2 linked regions of the Homo sapiens genome follow. The protein of the gene in region 1 interacts with the protein of each later gene in a pairwise test. Each region holds a gene or a part of one and is shown in the gene's direction. Other genes may lie near its edges. The genes, in order: GUCA2A and TRAM1.

Evidence for each region.
Region 2: the proteins of GUCA2A (region 1) and TRAM1 interact in binary tests that used the Homo sapiens proteins (3 or more experiments, as listed by UniProt).

What each region holds. Positions count from the first base shown.
Region 1 is NC_000001.11:42,161,882-42,166,106, reverse strand, and holds GUCA2A (guanylin precursor), read left to right. Parts: upstream 1-1,361; 5' UTR 1,362-1,394; coding exon 1,395-1,469; intron 1,470-2,496; coding exon 2,497-2,704; intron 2,705-3,136; coding exon 3,137-3,201; 3' UTR 3,202-3,417; downstream 3,418-4,225.
Region 2 is NC_000008.11:70,572,518-70,575,190, reverse strand, and holds the end of TRAM1 (translocating chain-associated membrane protein 1), read left to right. Parts: intron 1-185; coding exon 186-259; 3' UTR 260-1,973; downstream 1,974-2,673. UniProt on the Homo sapiens protein: Involved in the translocation of nascent protein chains into or through the endoplasmic reticulum (ER) membrane by facilitating the proper chain positioning at the SEC61 channel.

The sequences.
Region 1 (4,225 bases):
AGGGGTGGGAAATCCAGTGCAGCTGTGAGGACTGCCCTGGGAGCTGGGCCAGGAGCTACCTGCCCCTCCCTGAGGGCCTTGTCCCTGCAGTTCCCTCCTGGTCAGGCCCTGCTCTCTCCAATTCCCTCTTCAGTGTTGACTCTCCCCACCCAGGAATTCCTGCCCAACCTCCCGCCCTAGGGCTGTCCTGGCATCGGGCCAGGTTGGCTGAGTAGAAAGATGACAATCCCAGGGCTACCCTTTCTCCTGTGTCCTGGGGATTCCTGCTCACAACAGCACACAGTGAATGCACGCTGCCCTGAGGGCGCAGTCTGAATGGGGTCAGAGTCTATAGGGGCGCGGGCACACCCAAGCAATTCCCCAGTGAGATCCGCGGAAAGGGGACTGTATCTGCAGGGGCAAGGGGGGCGGGCGGATTGGGGAGGAGCTCATTCGAGGACACCCTGAGGCTGCAGGGCAGGCAGGACAGGATGGGGACCAGCACAGGATGGGGACAGCCTGTGACTCAGACAGGCAGGAGGTCACCAGAGGGGCCAGGGAGGACCAGGAGCTGCTGTGGCTGCTAATAATATGGGAATGGACCTCTGCTGAGCACCTTCTGTGTGCCAGGCATTGAGCTAAATGTTTTTAAAACCTCACTTGATTCTCCAAACAGTAATGCCTACCACACACCTACCCCATGAGGTAGGTATTATTTTTGGTTCCCACAGGGGACACAAGGGACAACGAGACTCAGAGAGGGGAAAGCATTGGCCCAAGTTCACACGCCTCACAACTGGGCAGTAGGTGGAACGGAACCCAGGCTGTGCGGAGGGCTTCCTTGAGGTCGCGGCAATCAAACCCAGACCCTGACTTGCCCTGCAGCCTCCCCCGTGGAATTTCTCACATTTCCCTGAATATTCCAGGCCCGTCTCACCTCCTGGCTGTCCCTTTGGCATGAAATGGCCTTCTGTCCTCAGTCCCTTCTCTGGGAAAACTTCCACCCATTCTCCAGAGCTCAGCCCCCAGTGCAGCCCCGTCACCTCATCCTAGGATCACCCCACCCTAATCGCCCTGCGTTTCACTGTCGGGCTGGGCCCCCCTCCTCAAGGGCAGGGTCTGCCGGCCCCACACAGCAGCACAGGGCAGTCGTGAGTGAATGTGCCTTGTTGGTGAATGAATGCAGGACCCAGCCCGGCTGTGGGTCAAAGTAGGTGCTCAGGGAGGGGCCGGGGCCCCCCCTGCCTGGCTCTTATCTCCTAGGGCTGTCTCGAGCCTTATCTGATAAGGCCTGACAGGTGAGCAGATGAGACTGACAGAGGCTTCCAGGTTACTCAGTAACCTGCCCTCTTTAAAAGTCCCGCCGCTTCCCCCTGGCATCCAGAACAGCCACCCCTCTCTCGGGCACTGCTGCCATGAATGCCTTCCTGCTCTCCGCACTGTGCCTCCTTGGGGCCTGGGCCGCCTTGGCAGGAGGGGTCACCGTGCAGGTGAGTCCTGTGTCCCTACCCCGGCCCAGCTGGCTCCCTGCCCCTAGTGCCCAGGTCTGGTCCCCTGAGAGAGTACCTCCTCTTTGGGGCTGGATTGAGGGTGTGTGTCCCAGGCTTGGCCTTCTTCGAGGAGCTCCTGCTCAGTCCAGCCACACACACACCTTTCCCTTCAACTTTGGAGGAGAAAGAAACCCAGTGGAGGGAAGAGGAATAACCATATGGGGAAGGCGGGGAGTTGGCCAATTTACTGAGTGTCCTATGTGCCGGCTCCTTCCCCAGCCCCTCACTGTGGCTCCACTATCAACCTGGAAGAAAGGGATCATTAGTCCCATTTTACAGAGGGGAAAACTGAGCCTCACAAAGGTTCTGTAACAGGCCATGGGCACATGGCTGTGGGAAGTGCAGGAGCTGGATTTAAATCCAGACCTTACTCCTCAGTGGGTCCCAGGAACCACATGGACACCCTGGAGGTCCTGACAGATGGGTATGCCTACCAGTGCCAATGCTGGCGACAGGCCAAGCTGGCACCTAGCGGGGGCCCTGATCTCTATCAAAGCCAGATTCCGGGAGGCCTTTTATTGCTTCTCAAACCAAAACCAGGCTGCAGGCTGGAGCTGGGGGCCCAGTAATCAGCCGCACCGCTCTCAGGCAGGGGAAAGACAGCCTGGGCTTGGCCACGTGGAACTACGATGCCTGGGTGCTGGTCCTTTGCCTCTCCCTAAAAATCAGCACACTGGCTCCTACTCATTAGGCACCTATGGTGTTCCTGGAGCTTCACACCCATTTTCTCCATTCCCCATACAACATGCAGAATTTGCGGGTTCCAGAGTGTCCAGCATCACGGAGCCAAGCCAGGACGTGGGGCCTGAACTCTGCCCCTCACAGTGCCCCACTGTGGATCGCCTGGCTCCCATATGCCACGAACACTGCCTGTGAGCACCACTGGGCTGGACCGGGGCCAGCACGGGGGGCACAGCCAGGAAGCAGGCTGCAGCCTGGCCTCATGCTCTGGGCTTCTCTCTTCCAGGATGGAAATTTCTCCTTTTCTCTGGAGTCAGTGAAGAAGCTCAAAGACCTCCAGGAGCCCCAGGAGCCCAGGGTTGGGAAACTCAGGAACTTTGCACCCATCCCTGGTGAACCTGTGGTTCCCATCCTCTGTAGCAACCCGAACTTTCCAGAAGAACTCAAGCCTCTCTGCAAGGAGCCCAATGCCCAGGAGATACTTCAGAGGCTGGGTGAGCAGCCTCCTTCCTCTCTGATTGGTGGGGTTCGGGAATACTGTGGTGGCACTTGAGGAAGAGATGTGCTCTGATTGGTGGGATTTGGAGGAAGGGCTCAGCTCTGACTGGTGGAACTAGGGAGCTTGGCTCTGATTGGTGGGTCTGTTCCATGCCCACTTCAATTCCAAGTTGTAACTGCTGAGGTTTGGGAACTAAGACCATTCATCTGGTCTTAGTTTCCTCTCTTTCTGGTGGAATCTCTGCTTTGATTGGTTGGTTTGAGTGGTCTGTGTGCCCTGGTTTGGGGCGAAAAGCCCAGTAGGTCAGAGTACGGGCCTGCTGAGATTCTCCTGGGGCTGGGTGGTGACGTACAAGCTCTGGGCCAAGGGCGGCAGGGGCCTCGCGAGGAAATGCTGGTTCTCACGAGGCTCCATCTCTGTTGTGCAGAGGAAATCGCTGAGGACCCGGGCACATGTGAAATCTGTGCCTACGCTGCCTGTACCGGATGCTAGGGGGGCTTGCCCACTGCCTGCCTCCCCTCCGCAGCAGGGAAGCTCTTTTCTCCTGCAGAAAGGGCCACCCATGATACTCCACTCCCAGCAGCTCAACCTACCCTGGTCCAGTCGGGAGGAGCAGCCCGGGGAGGAACTGGGTGACTGGAGGCCTCGCCCCAACACTGTCCTTCCCTGCCACTTCAACCCCCAGCTAATAAACCAGATTCCAGAGTACTCTGGGTGTTGCCTTCCTTCCTTCCTTCATCCCCTAGTCTATCCTGCCCTGGAAGCTCGGGATGTAATGTACTAAGCGAAGGACCCCACTCTCCCTGCTAAGCTGCTCACTGTCCCTGGGGCTGCCACAACACAGAGGCGTGGAGAGGATCTGGATCTCCAAACCACCAAGGCAGCGGGTGGTGGGGAGGGTTTGCTTTTATTTCACATCTCCTGAGGTCACCAAGTTCACTGAGCCACATGTGAGCACGGGAGCCAGTCTGAGCTGGTTTGGACAACCAATACAGGCACTTGGCCCACTAGAAGACTGGCACCAAACTCTTGGGTATTCAAGGACTTGGCTCCCACCAGCCATGCTAGTGTGGCCTCCAGCCCTGACCACATCCCAAACCACACCTCTTGCCATTTCCTCTGCTGCTGCTCACCTCTCCACTGCCCGTCTTCCCACACTACTGTCCAGGCAAACTCCTACTCAGGGTCCAAGGCTTTCATTCCACGGCCTCTCCTCAAGACAACTTGCTCAACCCCCCAGGAAGAGTCTCAGTGCTCCCATTGTGACCTTGACCTTGGTGCTTTCTGGGCACTGTGATCACCCACAACCCTTGCACAGCTGTGGCCACCCTGTTGTGTAATGGCTTCTGTGCCTGGGGAAGTCTCTCTGACCTCCAGACCCACATGGATAATTGCATGAGGATATAAAACAGGGCAGGGGCCCAGCCACAGCTTTTCCAAGTACTGTGTGATCTTTGGAAAGTCACCTTCCCTCTCTGTGCCTCCACCTCTTCCTCTATAAAACTGGGACACTAAT
Region 2 (2,673 bases), on another chromosome or scaffold:
GCTACTTTCAGTTCATTGTGTTAAAAATGTTACCAGGTTTTGTGATTGGTTAAATACTGGTAAGTAAATTTCACCTGAGTGAATTGGATTTTACATTTTCTTTTCTGAAGGTATCTTTACATATAAAGATTATAACTTGCATTTATTTATAAAAGAGAGTAACATGGATTCTTTTCTTTTTGCAGAAAATGGTGTGAATGGAACATTAACTTCAAATGTAGCAGACTCTCCCCGGAATAAAAAAGAGAAATCTTCATAATGAATTATAAACTAATTGATTAATGTCCCCAAAGAAATCTGCTTTCTACTATATCTTTCAGCATTAGAGATTTTTCTGTTCTTGAAAATACAGTCTGTGCTCTTTGATTTTTGCTATTGTACGGTTTCATGCATTTTTTTAAAGGGCATTTGAGGGGAGGATTATTGCTATGAATGAAAAAAATATTTTAGCTTAGACTAAGCTACCTGCCTTCAAAATAGTTTAGGGACCACCACCATATTTTATTTTGTTTTTATTTTTGAACATTTTTCTAATGATTTGGAGAGAAAACTATTTACAAAAATTCCACATATCAGTGATACAATTTCTTGCTGTCACCAATTTTTTATAATAGCAGAGTGGCCTGTTCTAAGAAGGCCATATTTTTTAAGTTATCTTTCAGGGTAACATGGAAATACTATAAAGTTGGATGTCAAACTTTAATATGTTTTCAGTGTTCTCTAATTTTTTGGAATTTTTGTAGACTTTACACCTGGAAAAAAAGATTTGTAAAATCACCGGAACAATTGTGTGCTTTATTTTATAGGTAGTGGTTATTAGTATTACATCCCCATTTTAAAAACAAAAACATAATAATCGTTACAACACGTGGAGTTTTACTAACATACATATTAAATCAAAGTATATTCTTAAAAGTACTTGTGAAGTAAAATCTTTCTTGTGCATTTTCAATACTTGTAAACTGGAAATCAGAAAATATTTACTATGAACAGGAAAATCTGACATATAGCCCTTTTTGATATGTTTATTAATAATGATTCTTAATGGGGCTCATAATAAGTTTAATATGCACAGCATCTTAGAAAAGTTTAACCTGCAAACACTTTTAAAACATAATGCCTACTTGATTTATATCTATAAAAAGACTGACAGGTAATTATATTTGGAAAACATTTAATGCACTAACTTTAAAGAAATTGAAAATTCAGGTGGATAAATAGTCTTACAAAAGACAATGTGCTTTATGTTATACCTATAGCTTTGGTCCCATCTTTAATTGAGAAACATTTATCTGTATAAAACATATTTTTGGATAAATATATATATATATATTTGTATCTCTACAGAAAGGCTCTAAAAAGCATTTGAGGAAAATATTTGGTTCCCTTTTCTATAATCATCCTTTAAGATTCTTATAGCTACATTTGGTTTATTCATCATATTTACAGTATATATATTGTTCTTTTCAGTGTTCACATCTTGTTCCCCATTTCTCACTTGTGTCACCAGCTGTTTGTGCCATTTTTAGTGTAAAAGTTGCAGACCTATTAGATCTGCAGTTTAAGTTGCCATGCTGCTAGGAAATTGTCCTTTTTCTTTCTAGCTGTTAACCTACTTCCTGGAAAAAGTAGTAGCTCTCTGTAGCATTATGGAGTTTCAGTGGAACCAAATTTTTGCCATTAAAAACTGGCATTATACTGAACTATACATTGAGAAATCAATCAAAATAAAAATTTTTACTTTCACAAGTTGTATCCTGGATGTTTCTGTCATTGTTGGTGTTTAGGCTATTTTGGTATATAACCTCATTAAAATGTACCATATTTAAAACACTTCATAGACATTCAGAATAACCCTTTTCAAAATTGTGTTCTGCAAATAAACAGATTTGTTCCACAGAATATTGGTGAGGACTACTGGGGGGATAGATGGTCATAACCAAATAAATCTGGGAATCACTGGATTAAACTAACCTAAAGGTGTCTCTTTATTATGGGACCGTTCAGTCCTTAATATGCAAACGTGTTTCCTGGTGCACCAAGAATGTTGGATATAATATGCAGTGTTTCCCACCTTATTTGCCTGTAGAATTTTCTGTTCACTGAATTACTATAGCACTTTGTTTTCTGCAGCATACACTGTGTTTAGGCAAAGAAAAAAAAAAGCCCTTGACATGTCATTACCAAGGGCTAATATATACACAGAAGCACATATACACACAAGTATGATTATAAATTATGAGCCCTACATCCTGCTCTCAAATGTGCTGAGGAAAGTCTGTACTGGCTTCCAGATCCTGCAGAGCCTGCCATTATCACCTGGGCTCAAGTCGAGCTTCAAAGCATGATGGGAATCCTGTAGGGACCCACACCTGGACAAGGCTCATGGCTCTGTCTTAAACCCGGGGGGACCATGAATTAGTTGCTTTGCTACTCTGGGGTTTAGTCTTTCCCTCCACAAAATGCCTCCTGCATTTTTTTTAACTGTAAATTGACAATTTATAATTGTACGTGGGGGTACAAAATGGTGTTATGATTTATGAGTATAATGGAATAATTAAGCTAGTTAACATCCATCACCTCAAACACTTAACATTTTTTGTGATGAGAACATGGAAATTTAGTTTTGAAATGTATAATGCTGTTATTAACTATATTTACCATGCTGTGCAG